Linked DNA regions of Homo sapiens: region 1 is linked to region 2. The links come from fine-mapping of genetic effects on plasma protein levels. Region 2 holds a variant in brackets. A gene starts in the other region. All regions are shown on their forward strands.

Region 1 (8,743 bases), not on the chromosome of region 2:
ATCTTCTTGCCCCTTTCTGAACATACCCAAAAGTTTCCAGCCTTGGCTGATGCCAATACCTTGCCTGGACCCCACTCCCTCTGTCCCCTACAGCCTGTGGCTTAGCCTCCAAGTCCGTACAAAATGCCTGATGCCTGCGCCTCTGCCTCTGGCTGGCACTATCGCTTGTTTGTGTATATGTGTAGAGCTGCAAGCAATTTGCAGACAATAAAAATGACATTGCATGGCCGGGTGCAGTGGCTCATGCCTGTAACCCCAGCACTTTGGGAGGCTGAGGTGGGCGGATGACTTGAGGTCAGGAGTTCGAGACCAGCCTGGCCAACATGGTGAAACCTCGTCTCTACTAAAAATACAAAAATTAGCTGGGGATGGTGGTGCGTGCCTGTAATCCCAGCTACTCAGGAGGCTGGGGGAGGGGGGAATTGCTTAAACCCAGGAGGCAGAGGTTGCAGAGAGCTGAGATTACACCACTGCACTCCAGCCTGGGTGACAGAGAGAGACTGTCTCTAAATAAATAAATAAATAAATAAATAAATAAATAAGGCATTGCAGTGGCCATTTATTGAGCATTTGTTATGTGCTGGGCACTACAGGCCACATTTCCATGTTATAATGCCTAGTTTACAGATGAGGAAGCTGGGGCTCAGGGCTAAGGAGTAGCTGCTCAGGGGCACCCAGTCAGGAAATGGGCCTGAATTATTTTTACCTCTTCCATTGCCGGGCACAGAGTTGCTACTCAGTCAACATCTGCTGGATCTGTTAGAAGAGTTTAGTTGATGCCTTAAGATCTGAGTGTGGCAGGGAGGGAGGGAGGGAGGCAGGGAACTGGGCCAGGTTTGGCTGGTTTCTCTTCATCAGGTAGGTTTTCTGTGAGCAGTCAGCCATGAAGACCCAGCCCAGGGCTTCTGAGGTATGGCATATTGGCTGCAAATAAAAATGGAAGGCAGGTCTGGAGGCCAGGGTCAGGGTTCAGATGGGAGCCAGGCCTTGGGGTGGAGCTGTCTGATAAGCAGATTGGTGGGGATGGGGGTGTGAGGGAGGATCTGCCAAGCACCAGAAGCCCCAGGAGCGGCCAAGCCAATGATGCCTTTCCAATACCCTCTGCTCCACTCCTTTAAAACCACCTCCCTCCTTCCCAGCCACAAGAAGGGCAGCTGGCATCAGATGGCCAGGGGACCCCCTGCATTTGACCTGGATAGGGATTCTCCATTCTCGTTACTGGCAGGAAACAAACAAACAGAAAAGAAATCAACAACAACAACAACAAAAAAAACCCTCTAACTCATAGGCATACACCTACTTTCATAATCCTTGTACCTTTCCCAAAGCAATTTTGGGTTCACAGAATCTTAATTTTCACAACAAGCCCAAATAGGTCTTAGGAGAAGCTGATGCACCCCATTTGCCGGGCAAGGGAACGTAGGTGTGCAGAGGTGACGTGTTCAAGGTCACAGCTGGCAAGGGGCAGAGAAGGAGCAGAGCATGGGGGTCTGGGCTTTACACTCAGGCAGCGGATGTTTATGAAGCACCTGCTCTGTGTGGGGTATTGGCTAGATACTGGGGCTAGAAGGATGAATGCAACCCAATCCCTAGTTTTAAGTTTTACATCCACTTATATGTTGGATGTAAGTGGGTAGAACGTGAAGATTCTAGACAGAAGGTACCCTTGCGAAGGGACCTAGTTTTAAAAAAATTAGCTAACAAATACATATATAACATTTACTCTGTGCCAGACACTGTTCTAGGCACTTTACATATTAACACATCTAACCCTTGTAATCACCCTGTAAGAATTATCATTCTATTCAGTTCAGAGATGAGAAAACAGAGGCTCAGAGTAGTTATCAAATTACGCAAGGTCACACAGCTCGAAAGTGGTAGGGCTGGGATTTGAACCCAGATAGCCTGGGGCCCAGAGGCCAAACACCTACACACAGTTTTCTCTGAGACCAGCAGAAAAGCCTATTATGGGAACAAATGGCAGCTTAGTATGTTGCAAACACTCATTCAGGCCTGGTTCTAAATCCCCACTCCACCGCTATGTCCTAGCTCTTTCAACTAGGCTAAGCACCTTCAAAGTCCATTTGCCCACCTGCAAAATGGAGATAATTCCGGAGAAAATCATAAGCTAAGAGAGATAGCAATGTGGGTGTGCTCCATGAATGCCACACAGAGCCAAATGGAGAAAGGAGTGGACGGTGGGCCACTGGTCTCTCACCTGTGCTGACATTGAAGCCTGCAAAGCAAGGCAGGGCCAGGTATTCCCTGTCTGAATTCCCCACTGATTTCTGGTTTACTGTTTTTCCTGGCTCTGCTGCAAGGCTAGAATAGTATATTTGAGTAAAACCCAAACAGGTTTTGAGACTTGGGGTTACAGGACACCAGGACAAGATGCTGAGGAGGACAGGAGATAGGAATTTCCATCCCTGGAATCTGAGGATGTGAGAGGCAGAGGATCCTTGGGGATTAGTCGGCCTCATTTCGTTGGATTAGAGATGGGAGACAGAGGCCCAGCGATCGAGAGACACTGCCCAAGGTCACACAGCCAGTTTGGGCAGAGGTTGGGCCAGTATCCATGCAAAAATGCAGGCAGAGTTCAGGAAAAAAAAATCCCAAATCCTCCTGGATCCCCTACCCAGCAGGAAAAACAGAATCTATTCCTTTTAGGTTTTCAAATTAGGAAAATACACCAGTTTTCCTTTGTCTGGAGTATGTGGCAGAGCTCTCAGACCTAATGGACTGCTTTTTGTCTTCTAATCTGGGGGAGTGAGGGACCCCCATATCATCCCTTCCTTGTGACAGACATAGCTTCAAACTTTTCGCATCCAACACCCCAAGATCCACAATATGCCCAGACCCCAGGTCACGGCTACCCACCGTCAACCCCAATTTTGCCGTCCCCATCTTTGTCTCCAGCAGCCATCAGCATCTTGGTTTCTTTAGCAGACAGGTCTCTGGCATCTGGGGAGAAGCCTTTTAGGATGAATCTGGAGGAGAAAAGGGAGAAAGCCGGTGAGGGAGTCAGGCCGAGGTCGCCTTGCAGGACGCTGGATGGAGGGTGGTCTGGTTTCTGTATGGGGAAAGGGATGGCTGGGACAGGCAGCGAGCAGCAGTCACGCACACGGATGCTCTGGGCCAGGTAGCCTGCTCGGTGGCTGTGCTTTCGTGGGTGAGTATTTAGGAAAGGACAGGCTGTCCTCAGTGAAGGGTTGTCCTCACTTCAGGGAGGGCACCTACATTCGTTAATTTATCCAACAAGTATTCACTAAGTGTCATTTCTGTGTCTGGCGTATGCTGGAAAGTGGGGTCACAGTGGTGATCTTCGGAAGGCACTGGAAAAAATAAGGAGGTCACGGGCTCCGAGAGAGACCACACAGTGTGATGGGCCGTGGAGGAGGGCACTCAGAAGCTGTATCTGCCCACCTGCGGTGAGGGGAGGAGAGGGGAGGCTTCCTGGTGAAGGTGATACCTGGAGGACAGGGGGAAGTCAGCCTCTGTGAGTGTGTGTGTGTGTGTGTGTGTGTGTGTGTGTGTGTGCATAAGTGTGCATGCATGTTGGATGTAAGTGGGTAGAACGTGAAGATTCTAGACAGAAGGTACCCTTGTGAGATGGTTTAGGGGAGAGACAGGATGGGTGGGGAAGTCCCTACTTGAAAGGCCTCTCCCTACACCCACCCCCCGCTTCTCTTTTTGACAAAACTCAAGGCTTTCTTGGCCAGAAAGTGACATAAGGCAACCTGAGTCAGTAGACATGGCCGGGTGGCTGAGGGAATTATGGTGGGAGATGCTTTTGCAGATGGAGGCATGCATTTTCCTAGCCACAGCCTTCTCCTTCTCTGCTTTTCTCCAAGGACCCCTGGACTCTCAGAGGTGGTTCTGCATCCCTGGCTTGCCTAGAAATTGCACCAGCCACACTAGTACCAGAGGGCTGGGGGCTGCAGGAAGGTGGAAAGTGTCTTTTAGACAAATGAAAATCAATGAAATACTCAAGTGAATGCTTTCTGCCCTGCCTATGGTGTTAGGCAGCAAGAAAACTGCCTCTTCATTTGCATTAAATTATTAAGTAGCAACATTCCATTAGCAATATTAAGTGGCTATCATTTAACCTAGTTAGTTGCACTTTCAGCTGAGGGTTTTACTCTTCCGAAGCAATAGCACCAGGAAGCCTTCTCCCCTGGTGCCCTGGGTCGGAGCCCTGCCTTCACGCACGGTTACTTTCTGTGAAGCAGGCAGAGTGAAAGGCAGGTCTGATGGACACTTGGAAGCTAGAGTCCCAGCCCCCACTCCCTCTCGTGCAGCCGTGGGCTGGGCAGCCCCTGCAGGCCTCCGCTTACCCCAGCTCATCCTCCTCGATGAAGCCACTTTTGTCCTTGTCCAGCATGTGAAACACCTTCTTCACATCATCCGCACTCTTTTTCTTCAGGCCGACCATTTGGAAGAACTTTTTGTGGTCGAAGGAGTCGGTAGCTGTGGGGGGAAGAGCAGGGTCAAACAAGGACCAGAAAGGCTGGTAGGGAAGCCTGGGAGAATGGGGGGCATCAAGGCATTTGTTGATGGATTCCCACATGCCAGTCATGGGGAATGAGAGGTACCCACCTCCATTGGAGGGCTGAGGGAGCCCGGGCAAGGGAGGATAACCTGTCCAAGGTCACAAGGCTGGGAGTGGAAGAGGTGTGCTCAAACCCAGACCTCCCTGGCTCTCAAGCCCGCCCCCACGCCCCACCTCCACTGCACCCATTGCTGATGATGGGAGCAGCACCTAAGAACCAAAGGCTTTTGTTCTTCTGAGAACCTTGTGCCCAGGAAGACTTTTGAGTGCCAGCTGGTTGGGAGTGGGCTGGGGAATTGAAGGGGGCATGAACATGGTCCTGGGGTTAGGGGGAGGAGGGTTGACCTTCTTTCTTGGCCACAGACTTTGTTGCCAGAAAATTGACATAGAAAGGACAGGTTTCCCTCAAGGTCATACAGTGGGAGGAGGAGGGGCAAACCCGGAAGTCCTGGCTCTGCGCAGAAATCCACTTCGGAGGCAGTGGGAAGGGGGTGTTAGGAGGCTCCCGAGAAACACCCAGTTAAGTTTCTTCCCACATGGGCTTGAGGTGAAGGGAGAGGGTTATCCCAGGACCCTGGGAGGGTGGCTTCCCAGAGAGGTTCTTGTGCCCAGGGGAGGGGGTGCAAAGCAGAAAGGAAATGGGGGTCCTTTTCTACCTGCAATTTTCTGTATCTTGGGGTCCTGTTTTAGAACACCTGGGGAAGGGTACAATGTTAGATCATGTATTTTGTGTGTGTGTGTGTGTGTGTGTGTGTGTAGGGAATGGCTGTTGAAGTCATGTTCTCTTCCCCTCAGCACAGGGCTAGAGACAAGGAAAGTTGCCCTGTCCACCTCCGACACTAGGCTGGGCAACCCAGTTCTAATACCCCTTCTGCCCAGCTAGGTGACCTTGGGCAAATGTCTTGTCCTCTCCAAGACAGTTCCCTGATTTCCCCATCTGGAGGACAGGGGAGGAGGAAGGCGGGCAGCTTAGCGCTGAAGTCCCGGGCAGCTGGGAGAGGTGAGACTGCCAGTTCCCCTCCCCTGCCCGCCTAAGGAGGCTGGAGGTTTGAGGCACTGAGGATGCCCCGTGCGGGCTTAGGCAGAGCTGTGCGCCGGCTCCAGAAGGTCACCTCGCCCGCAGGTCCGTTGCTGAATCTCAGTAAAGGAACTAGGACAGTCAGGGGGCCAACAAAGGCTACCGCCTGGCGGGAAAAGTCCTGTCCAGAATGAGGGTCCAGGAAAGGGGTCTCTTGGAGAGGAGGATGCCCCCTGCAGTCCCCTCTAAGTGCCTTAAAGAGGACGTCCAGAGAGCTCGTACAAGGACCCTGGAGGTCTCTCCTCCGACCCTGGTCTTCGCCCTTGGTCCCGGACCCTGAGTCCTCCCAGCCACCGGGCCTTCAGCACCCTCAAGTTTCTGTAACTTAGGCGGGGCGCCCTCTTCCCCGCCCGCTCCCCGCGCCAAGCCTCGCCCGGACAGAGTTTGGGAACTGCCAAGGACGCCCCCGCCCCGACCTCGCCGGCGCCCAGCGGGAAGTGTGGGCAGAAGCGCGCTGGGGAGGATCCGCCGGCTGCGGGGCCGGCGGAGTGCAGGGGCGCGGGCGGTGGACGAGGGGAGAGGGATGGGGAGGGGAGCGCGCTTGCTCACCGCTAAAGGCTCCCACCGCCTTCTTGATGTCCTCAGCGTTCAGCAAGTCTGTCATCGACATCCTGCAACTGTTTGAGCGGGCAGAGCAAGTGCGAAAAGATTAAAAAGTGCTTTTCTCATCATTTCTGCTCATATGACCAGCGCTGCAGTGCTGCGCGCCGGGCGCACGCCCGCCGGGCCTGGCATGGCGCCAGGGGCCCGGACTCTGAGCGCAGCGGGAGCGGCTCAGTCCAGCCGCGCCGCTGAGCAGCGCCGGCCGCCGGCAAGAAGGCGCGCGGACCTGCTACCACTCCTGCACCGCCAGGCCAGGGGTCCGCGGGATCCCAGGGGCTGCGGCCAGGGCACGAGGGAAGGGGCCACCTCTGGGATTTAGGGGGCACTGGCGTCACCAGCTGGGTCTGGAAAGTCCACCTGCCGTCAAGGACACGCAGGAGGTGCGCCGTCTCAGATCTGGGAACCTTGGCGGATGTCCTGCCGCGTGGGGGAAGATCCTGAACCTTCAGCGGCCAGCCTGCACCTCAGGACCTCCTAGGCCCTGCTCCCTTTCTCTCTCCACTCCTACCTCAGCCTCTGCTCTGGTCTGTCCTGGATGCAAATTTATGCTGCAAAATCTGAGCGCTGAGGTCCTGAAACCTGACCCACCCGACGCAGGGAGGAGGTGGCAGGGACAGGGACAGGGACAGGCAGGAGCTGCTGGGGCCCACTTCGGGTGCCCCATCCCACATCTGGCCAGGGATGCATATTCTAAAACCTGATTTGATGTTTTACTTTTATTTTTTATTTTTTTGCTGGCTTGATTTTTCGAAGAACACTTCTCAGATCTCTACTAACTACTTGCTTTCCTGGTCTCCTGGGTCCTGGCATCATGGGTCCAGACTCCCCCTACTCCTATAAACCTTTTTTGGGCAGAGTAGGGTGGGAGAGTCCGCTTGGAATTGCTATGCTCCCTCCCAGAAAGCCCCATATGTGTTTGGAAGAAGGGTAGCACCTTCAGACCACACTTTCTAGACAACCTAAGCAGGTGTAGGGGTCTGAACTTCACCTCTGGAAAAATGTCACGGTGCCTATCTGTATGCAGCCAGAGACCCGTTGTGTTCTTCCCCATGGTTCCCAAGGTTTCAAGCTGCAACCAGCTGCTTCTAGAGTGTGTGAGCGCTGGACAGGGAGTCAGGAGGCCTGGGTTCTAGATCCTGGGCTGCACTAAGTCCCAGTGTGACCTTGGGTTGTGACCTTCTCTGGGCTTCTGTCTCCTTCTGATGTGTTGATGACGTCAGTGGTCCCATGTAGTGGGACCTGGGGACTGCAACTTAAGGTATTGGCAGGTAGGCAGGGCCTTGGGCTGTGGTGGCCCTGGGTGGTGGGGACCAGGGAGAGCAGCTGTCCAGCTGCCCAGTAACTCAAGTTCCCTGACATCGCTGTCAACATTGTCTCCTGCAGCTCAGCCCTGGATGGCTGCCCTTCCTGGAAACCTTAGGATACCTCTGCTGGCTCCAGCTGCCCCCTCCCTGTGAGTCAGCTCCTTCAAGCCACAGCCCGCCAGATGGCTTCCAAGGCACCAAGGATGCAGCTCCTGACCTGATGCCTCTCAGCTCCAGGACTTCCCAGGACCCCTCAGCTGCCCTGGACCCTGCTGCTACTGCCGTCACCTCTGCACCTTGTCCCCAGCTGGGCTGCTGACTCAGATATGCCAGGCTCCTATGCTATCATTTCAACTCCCAGGCTCAGCTCACTCCAGGAGCCTAGTTGGAGAATGGATTTCCCCAGCTGAAGGACGCTTCAGCTATACCAGTGGAGAAACGGAGGCACAGAGTCCGTGAATGGTCTAAGGACACATGGTAAAGCAATAGCAGAGCAGGGTACACCCCTGGACTCACTCGTGTGGAGTTCAGTGACTCTCTGGGTGATCCTCCCTGGTGCCTGGGACCCAGCTCTATCAGGTCCCATACATCTCAGCCACACACTGGCTCCTGGTGAGCCCCTAAGCAGCTACCCTGTGGCAAAGGCTGCAGCCTCAACAGGGGCCCACTCTTCTTCCATCTCCTTCCTCCATCTCTCCCTGCTGCTGAGTTCTCCTATCAACTTGACACCCCCTCCGGGACTGAGCCCTCCCAGCCAGAGCATCAATGTCATTAGGTCAGCCCATCAGCCCTGGGTAGTCCTCCTCTGCCCTCTGGGTCCTCTCTGATGGCATCACCAGAGTCCACAGATGTCTGACTCCAGCCCTCTCGTTCTAAGGCTGGGGAATCTGAGGCCCAGCCACGGGGGGCGGTGGGTGGGGGGAGTTTGCCCCAGGCCACACCAGGAGTCTGGGTGGAGAAGCAGGAATGCATGCTCTCAGCCCTACATTCCACAGCTGCCCTGCCTCCAGCACCCCCACCGCACCCCCCTCCCCGGGTCACTACGGACAGGGGAGATGTAGCTCTCCCTTCCAGCTGGCTCATCCTGCTGCATCCCTCTATCCTCCAACCTCGGTAGCTGCCACTCACCTCGGGTGGGGGTGGAGGGCTGGAGCCTGCACTGAAAGGCTGGGCTGGTGGGAAGTCCTGTCGGGAAGTGAGCCTGGAGGT
Region 2 (8,769 bases):
CTAGGTGAGGTGGTACATGCCTGTAGTCCCAGCTACTTAGGAGGCTGAGGTGGGAGGATCAATTCAGCCCAGGAAGTCGAGGTTGCAGAGAGCCATGATCGTGCCAGCCTAGGTGACAGAGCAAGACCCTGTCTCAAAAAAAGAAAAAAGGAAAGTGAGGTCCCTCTTGTCTATCACCCCTGAAATGTCCCTATAGTTTTCTGACACACATACATTGATACAGATAATGTATACACAGGTGTCATCTTAATTTTGGCCTCAAGGTCTTGAAGGGCTCGGCAGGGCCGTGGGTGTGGGGACTTATTAGTACTGTCCATTATCATTAGAATAGGAGAGTTATTTTAGGCAAACACTAACTCACACTAAGTCCAGAGGCTGGTGAAATAGTCCTTCACCTTTCTCATCAAGTCCTTTAAAGTCTATACAAAGCAGATCTCTGTGAGTTAGCACAGGGTTTAACTCTGAGTAACAAAGACCAGAAATGAAAGTGGCTTAAATGAGTCAAAAGTGTATTTCTCACCCAAATACCCAAGCTAGGTGGTCTGGGGCTGGTGTGGCAGCTGTGGCTGTGCTCCATGAACCCTCAGGGACTATGGCAGGTAGAATTTTCCAGAACTGGCTACAACAGTATCTCCTGTCCCTCACGCTCTTCTGTATCATGAGCTTGATAGCCCACCAGTGGAGAAGGGGCGTCTGATTCCCCTCCTAGGTTGAATCTAAGCCAGCTTGTGACTGTTTCGGCCAATAGAATTTGGTAGAGTGATACTGCAAGATTTTTGGGTGGATCATAAAAGGTCATATGTTCTCCACCTTGTTCACTGGAATATTCTTGCTTGGGGCTCAGAGCCACCATGTAAGAGATCCAACTACCCTGAGGTTACTATGCTGTGATGACATCAAGCCACATGGAGAGGCCATGTATAGGTGCCCTGGTTGACAGTCCTAATCTTTGAGCCATCCTTATTCCAGGCTCCAGATGTGTAAGTGAAGCTGTGTTGGATCTTCCAGACCAGCCATTCAGTCAGCTGAGTACCACTGAGTGACGCCAGTCAACACCACTAGGAACAAAAGCATTGCCCAGCCAAGCCCTGCCCAGAGTCCTTTCCCACAGAATCTATGAGCACAATAAAATGGTTGTTTGGGATTTTTGAGACAGAGGCTCACTCTGTTCCCCCAGGCTGGATTGCAGTAGCATGATCTCGGCTCACTGCAACCTCCGCCTCCCATGTTGAAGTGATTCTTGTGCCTCAGCCTCCCGAGTAGCTGAGACTACAGGTGTGCGCCACCATGCCTGGCTAATTTTTGTATTTTTGGTACAGATGGGGTTTCACCATGTTAACCAAGCTGGTCTCAAACTGGCCTTAAGTGATCTGCCCACCTTAGCTTCCCAAAGTGCTGGGATTACAGGCGTGAGCTATCACGCCCAGCCCTAAAATGGTTGTTTTAAGCCACCAACTCTGCAGTAGTTTGTTACACACCGAAAGTAACTGGGACAGAAATTCTGGTTCCATCCAGCTCATTGTTCTGCCACAGCTAGGAGTGACCTTGTCCTCATTATCCAAAATGGTGTCTGGAGCTTCAGCCATTACATCTGCATTCCAGATGGTAGGATATTGGGAGGGATGAAGGAAAAGGGCAAAGTGTGTGACACAGCTCTCTCTTAAGGAAGTTCCTGGAGGATGCCTCAGGACATGAAATAAAATTGGCTAGTATTTAGTCATGTAGCCATACCTAGCAATAAGAGAAGCTGGGAAACATTGTCTTTATTCCAGATGAGTGTATGCCCAACTAAAAATCAGGGGTTCTATTACATAAGAAGATGAAGAAAATAAACACAACAGTCTGCCACAGCATCCCCAAATGCCCTTGCTCTCTCCCTCCTCTCCCAGAGCCCCCGTATTTATTTATATACACTGTCAGCCTAGCCCAGGGTCCTAACATGAATATCAAGAAGTGAGTATCTAAAAGACAAATGAGTGTTTCTCCAGCTAATACTGAAGATCCCTCTCAAAGCATAATTTCTGATGCTAACAAAGTCTTTCTCTTTTCTTTTCTTTTTTTTTTTTTTTTTTTTTTACAGAGTCTTGCTCTGTCCCCTAGGCTGGAATGCAGTGGCACAATCTTGGCTCACTGCAACCTCCACCTCCTGGGTTCAAGCAATTCTCCTGCCTCAGCCTCCCCAGTAGCTGGGATTACAGGCGAGTGCCACCATGACCAGCTAATTTTTGTATTTTTAGTAGAGACAGGGTTTCACCATGTTGGCCAGGTTGGTCTCCAACTGCTGACCTCAGGTGATCTCCCAAAGTGCTGGGATTACAGGCATGAGCCACCGTGCCCGACCTTGTCTCTTTTCTTTCTAAAGGCCCCTTCCCAGTAAGGATGAGGAAAGATGGTAGGGGTCTGGGGCCAGGGGGAATAGGGATCCTGGCCAGCCCCATATATTAATTAATGAAGCAACTGTTAGTGTGTCCAACACTGGCTCCTCTAATCCTTGCCCTAAAACATGGCACTACGATTACATTCAGTTAGCAGATGGGGGAAAAAAACAGACTCAGAAAGCTTAAGTGACTCACCCCAAGTCACACAGCTAGAAGTGGCAAGGACAGCAGGGCTGGTGTGGCAGCTGTCACAGCTCACCCCTGAGCACAAGGTCAGGTGCCAAGTTCCTGGTGGTGGCTCTTTAAACAGCAAGTCCCAGCATGTCCCCTGTCACCGGGTCTGCCTGTGGTCTGCAGCCTCCCTTGTGGAGACCCTGCTTGTCTGTCTTCCCTGCACCCACAGGAACAGGATCGTTTGTGAGCATGCCTGAGGGAAGCCAGGGTTGTGTTAAACTGTGGCTACAGCCGAGACCCGTGGACATTGTTCTCTTTCAGTTTGGAACTGGGCCTCACTCCAGAGCTCGGTGCCTGAGCCTGAGCCTCCACTCAGAGACAAGCTCATCAGCTGCAAGACAGTCAGGGAGGTGCAGGCAGCCCCCGCAGCTTGTGAATCAGTGAGTGAGCTTAGATATATAAAGAACCCCGGCAAATGATGAAAAACTTCTGCAGATGGCTGGTGGTGATGGTAGCACAATGTGAATGTACTGAATGCCACTCAACTGTACGTTTAAAAATGGTTAAAATGGTAAATGCTATGTTATGCATATTTTATCACAATAAAAAAACACCCCAAAACTTAGTGGCTTAAAAGAGCAATCATTTATCAGCCCATGATTCTGCAGATCTGCAATTTGGGCTGGGCTGGGTTGGGCAGTTCTTCTGCTGGACTCACCTGTGACCAGCTGGCAGGTCACCTGGGAACCGAATGGTCTAGGATGGCCTCATGCAGTGTGTCTGGTGGTTGGTGCTGGTTGTCAGCTGGGTGGCAGTGGTGACTGGGCCACATACCTCCACCTGCCTAACCCAGGCACATTCACATGTTGGCAGTTGTAAGGGTCCCAAGAACAGCGTGAGAGGGCAAATCTCAATGCACAAGCACTTTTCAAACCTCTGCTAATCATGGTTGATGGTGTCCCATTGGCCAAAGCAAGTCACCTGGCCAAACCCACAGTCAGTGTGGGAGGGAACTACACCAGGGACTGAATCCAAGGAGGTGTGAGCAAATGGAGTCACTACCACCAGTCACACAACTTGTCCATGAGTTATTGTTGCAACTATCAAGCCTGGGTGACTACACAGGTGCATTAATTTTCAAAACAGAAAAGAAAGCTGGTTGCCCAAATCAGCATCTACTTTAGCCATTGAAGACACGAGATGGCCCCAGGCAGGAGTGCAGTTTTCAAAAATGAAGGGAACATTCTAGCATGACGTCGTCTCTTGGAGATCCAGAACAGAACCCACATCCCCAGCTCTTGGGGCTTTCTGTGAAGTTTCGGAGAGCAAGCAGGGTGCCCCCAGCTCTTCCTGGTTGGTGGAAGCGCCAGCCTCTCCAAGTGCATCCACTTCTTAAAGGCAAATCGTGATTCCCAGGCCCTGCCCCATCAACACAGATATGCTAAAAGCAGGGTTTGAACTAGAGATGGGTGGTGAGAACCAGGCCAAAAAATGACTCCTTCCGCAGTGTACTGGATTTCCTTTCTGCCCTGTCCCCGGATAGAGCCCCAGAGGAGAACGGCTGTTTGCTTTCTTTCCAAAATGAGCTCAACTTTCCTTTGGGAAGAAGGAGGTGGAGTTGTCCTGCCCCCATTACTGAGCAAATCAAGAATGGAGGGCCAGCCTCTATACCCCGCCGGCTGACAAGGAGGGCAGCCATACCCACACAAGAGTCAGACAGTCTGGGTGACCCCATCAATCACCCCTGTGTGACCTTGAGCAAGTTACTTAGCCTCACATGGTCTGTTTCCTCATAGAAGTGCAACAA[C/A]GACAAGATTAACCCCTCTTGAAGGGCCATCATGAGGATCCTATGCCCTAGCTCTTGCATGAGACAGTCCAGAGCACATAGAAGATGCTTACTAGCCACAGCTTGTCTTTTACGGTGGCTCTCTCCCAAGCCACAGGAGAAGAAAGCTTCTATGAGCTAGGCCAGGGTAACAGACCAACAAGGTCATTTGCAAACCCACATCTGGGCAGCAAATCTCACAGCCCTCCTTTCATCCAAAGGGCTTGATCATGGCAGCGGTGCTTCCACCCCCCTGACGCAAGAGAGACTCCCTCTGCCTTCCCCCGAAGCCATCACTAAGTCTCCACCTAACATTGTGTAAGGATGTCCCAACCATCCCTCCAAACCCTACTTCCACTGGCTGTGACAGGTGGCCAGACAGGAAGGAGGTATTACCTTGGTGTGAGAGTGGAGGGTTACAAGCTACCTTCAGGGTGCTACCTTGCAGGTTTCAGAAAACAGGCCAAGCCGCAACCCCATACACCACCTCTCCAGCATGCGGAAGCCGTGCTGCTGAAAGCATTTTGATTTTCCTCTTCCCTTGGCTTATCCTCTCCCCCTCAAATGCCATCTGCGGGGGAAATAGAAACAAGAGAGCATTTTAAAGACTTCTTGTGGTCTAAAAGCAGCAGTCCTCCAGGATGAAGCATCCTTAGGAAACCAATGACTGATTCTTTCAACCCTATTCCATGAAGCAGAACCCCCAAATCGTCCCCCTCTGATTTTACATCCCCTTGAGTTTGCCAGATTTTACCACCCAGCATCCTCCAGTGTCCCAAGCAGACCCGCAGCACACACCTGATTAAGCAGGTGCCAGACCCCCCCACCCTCACCCCGGGGCAGGTTTTGCGTGTTGACTCTCTCGGAACACTGCCCCTACCTGGTTCAGCTGGTTTATTGCAAGTTAATTGGTCTCATCCCTTCCCACTCCCCAACTCCATCACCCTTGGTTATTTATTGCTATGTACCAGTTACATAATGTTTTCTCTTTCGTTCATGAGGTAACAAAAATGTCTCTGCCTTTTTATTTTTTCTTAGACAGGGCTGGAGGGAGGAAAACAAGGGGTGACCCAGAAGTCTGCATGTCACCCTGGCCCTGAGGAACACTTAGAGATTCCCTCGCTTGGGTTCTGCCCCAGAGGATGGAAGAGATGAACTGCCACCTTTACCAGTCAAGCTGAGAAGGCTGCAGGCCCTCTGAGGTTCTGGGTGGGCTCCCGGCCTCCCCCTGGCTAGGGAAATATGGCCATTGGTAAACTGGGGAGAGAGGTACATGGACACAGGGCTGGGGTGAGGGGGCAGTAAAGGACCCTGATAAATCTGTCCTGGCTTTAAAGCTCCAAATAGGAGCTTGCCTTCATGGGCTCCTTCCTCCAGGTTCAGAAACCTGGACAAATAGCTCCCCACTTCCCAGGGTCAATGACCAAATCTGGATGGAGGGGGAGGGGAGAGCAGGCTGGGGGTGTGGGGGGTGGCGGTGCTGCTACCGCTGCTGCTGCAGCCCCCTGTGTATAAAACTCCCTTTGTATGCAGGTCGCCGGCTGCTCCCCATGCCAGGTGCAGCTGCCAGGATTCTCAATGCGGTTTGAACACAATTTGCCAGTGTTGGTTCAGCTCCGCTGGCTTCCAGTTGGGGGGCCATATGCTGTCTTTAATCTGCCTGTGCAATTCTCACCGATGTCAATAGGCGCGGGCGGGTGGGTGGTTCAAATGGCCCGAGAGCTGGGACTGGGGTGGTGCTCTCCCTGCTGCCAGGCGGCCTAGCTCTCCACCCCACCAAGGACCACCAGCGGGTCCTTGCAGGAGGCCATGGCAGCAGGCGGCAGGGACAGGCAGGGCCCAGTCACTGGCAGCTGCCCCTGTGTTTGGCTATGGCGCGTGGGAGCCTCTCTGTTCGGCCATCCCCAGAGCCATCATTGAGCCTTCCCCTCGACAGAGATCCCTGCCAAGGAAGTCGGCCAGGGAGGTGCCAGCGCTCAGTCCAGACTTCACATTTCCCTCATTCTTTCTTTAATTGGATTTTTGGTCCTGCTGGGCAAAATAAGCTTTCCACTGGCAAAACACTCTTGCCTCTTCGGAACGCGCGGTGGTGCCCGGCGGCTCTAGGCAGATCGTCGCCTGCCTCCCCCACCAACGCATTCATTCCCTCTCCCCAGGGACACAAGAGAGCTTGGCGTGCACACACATGCACTCACACACACACACATCCCCTCTGCCAGGTCCAGGCAAAGTCAGCCTCCCTCCAAGAACTTGATGTAGAGATCTTTGCAAACAGTTACTCTTGCTTACCAGGTCACGATCCCACATGGAATGGCCCGGAGTCGGGTGCTGTGGTTGGAGCTGGGGCTGTTGGGCGGGCATCAGGCCCTGGCCCAGCTGTTGGCTGCCCTCTCCGTGGCTGGGCTGCCCCCTCCCCTTGTAGTTAGTCCCTCCTTCCCTGAAGCCCTGAAAGTCCCAATTCTGTTACTCAGACACAGATTAAGGTGCCAAGAAGCAATCTTCTGTCTTTCCTTGACAATCGGACAGGCAAGCTAGGCCTTCGTGTGTGTTTGGGGTGGAAGTGTGTGGTGGTGGTGGGTTGGGGAAAGGCTGACGGAGGAGCAGGCAAGCAAGCTGGAGTCGGACTGAGAATGTCATTCAGAGAAGTGGCATTTTACTAGCAGCACTCAACATGAGATATTTAGATACTCTTACATCTTGGACTGAGCATTAGGGAAGAAAGGGAGAGGGGGAGGAGAGAGAGGGAGAGTGGAAGAAGGAGGACCAGGAAGGGAGGAGGGGAGAAGAAAAAGAAAGGAAGGAGAAGTGGGGGAGAACAGAGTGGGGAGGATGAAGAGGAAAAGGGGAGGAAGGAGAGGAAGAAGAGGGGAGGAAGGGCAAGAAAGAGCCACCCCCAACTCTCACCCGCCTTTACAAGAGGTGTGTTTTAAATCCTCACAGGCAGCTGTGAGGACCAGCAGAGCTAGCCCCTAGCCTCTCCCAGGTTTAGCCAGGCACGTTAAGGAAACCCTGCATCCCCAGACACTCTCAGAGCTTTCAGTGGCCAAGGGAACCCAGCAGTCCTCTCTCCATCTCTGGGATCCCGCATTCCACACCCCGCCCCCCACCCGCCACTGGCTGGGCCTTCCCATCCAGTGCCTGAGAGTATTACAGACCTCATCCCCGGGTAGTTAAGGTGCCTATTAAAATACACCAAGCTCAGCCCCAACAGCAGGCCAGAAAGCTGCTGATGGTCAAATACATCACAATATTTCAAAGTCCCTGTTAACAAGCACCCATTAAAATTTGACAACCAAGTAGTATCGCAGAAAGCGCTCATTCTGAAAAAAACGTGAGAGCTTTCTGCTGCTTCAGCAAGAGAAGGCTGGTTTACCTGTTCCTTGCATTTTAAGCCCGGGAGCACGAGGCCTTCCTGTCGGGGTGCTGCCTGGTTAAAGGAACACTGGGTGTTTATTCGCCAGGCCACATCTGAACCCGGCTTGTTAATGAGTCTGCTGTTGTAGGCTTGCTGTCGGTCAGCCTGCCTTTTTTTAATCAAAAGATAAAACAAGTCGGTTATCCAGGATTAATGACTCTTAGAGCATCCATATGAGGCTTGTATTTATCTTTTAAAAGAAAACAGAAGGAAGAAAAATGACCAGATTTTGTTTCAGTAAGCAGTTTAAATCTGCTCTGGTAAGTTGAATTCATTCATTCATTAATTCAGTCATGTGTCTGGGAGAAGCCAGCAGGAGCCCCTTCCATCATAAGAACTTCTGACTGTGAAATAAACCCCGAGTAACCAGATTAACTATGAAGTATGTCTCCGTCAGGTTTTAGGCATTAGTTCAAGTGTAATTTCTGTGCATTTCGGCTTATTGCAGCGAGTTGCCCATTCTGGTATTCCAGGCAGCTCTTCAGGAGGAGAAAGGGTCTCTGTTTCCCCTCTCCAGCTTCAAAACAGCTCGTGTATGCAATGACAATATTGCCCAGTGTTGTTTTAACTGGGAATATCAATATTTTAAATAAATTCCCATATGACTCATATAGCTTTGCATAGCACAGAGTGTATGAATGTCTCTTCACCTCTGAACATGCAGAGGTATATATGCACATACCGGCACGTGTGTGCGCACACACACCCATATCACATATACATATATGTGACCATGCAGAGCATATGGCTACCGAAATACTCATTTTAAACAGTTTGAGGGCTTCGTTTACAACATATATTATAAAATTGGTATCTTTTATTTAGCATCCCTAGATACAGTTTGGCCATAAAACACACACACACACACACACACACACACACACACAATATTGGCCTTGCTCTCACTCGAACTGGGCCCTGCTGTTTTCTAAGTTGGCTGTCTTCATACGGGCCTCCTTCTTTTTATTCTCCATCCT

Alleles and levels. Alleles are on the strand shown, and positions count from the first base shown. The strength of an association depends on the size of the effect and on how common the allele is.
With allele A in place of C in region 2, the plasma level of the protein whose gene starts at base 6,267 in region 1 is higher (weak association).

The links. A credible set is the group of variants that fine-mapping cannot tell apart. PIP is the posterior inclusion probability: the model's chance that the variant is causal. The UK Biobank Pharma Proteomics Project read protein levels with antibody pairs (Olink). The fine-mapping took linkage between variants from a reference panel, not from the people measured, so its PIPs are less certain.
Region 1: it holds the start of PVALB, and the variant in region 2 is the best candidate, but not a certain one, in a credible set for the plasma level of the PVALB protein (UK Biobank, PIP 0.55).

The regions. Positions count from the first base shown.
Region 1 is chr22:36,810,769-36,819,511 of GRCh38, forward strand. It overlaps PVALB (parvalbumin), which reads right to left and starts at 6,267. Exons shown (of 4, transcript NM_001315532.2): 1 at 6,177-6,267; 2 at 4,335-4,467; 3 at 2,878-2,987. The coding sequence starts at 6,237.
Region 2 is chrX:39,834,333-39,843,101 of GRCh38, forward strand. It overlaps MIR1587 (microRNA 1587), which reads left to right and starts at 3,229; the gene lies at 3,229-3,281. RefSeq lists a silencer at 5,478-5,666. The variant C/A (reference allele first, on the strand shown) is at 4,360.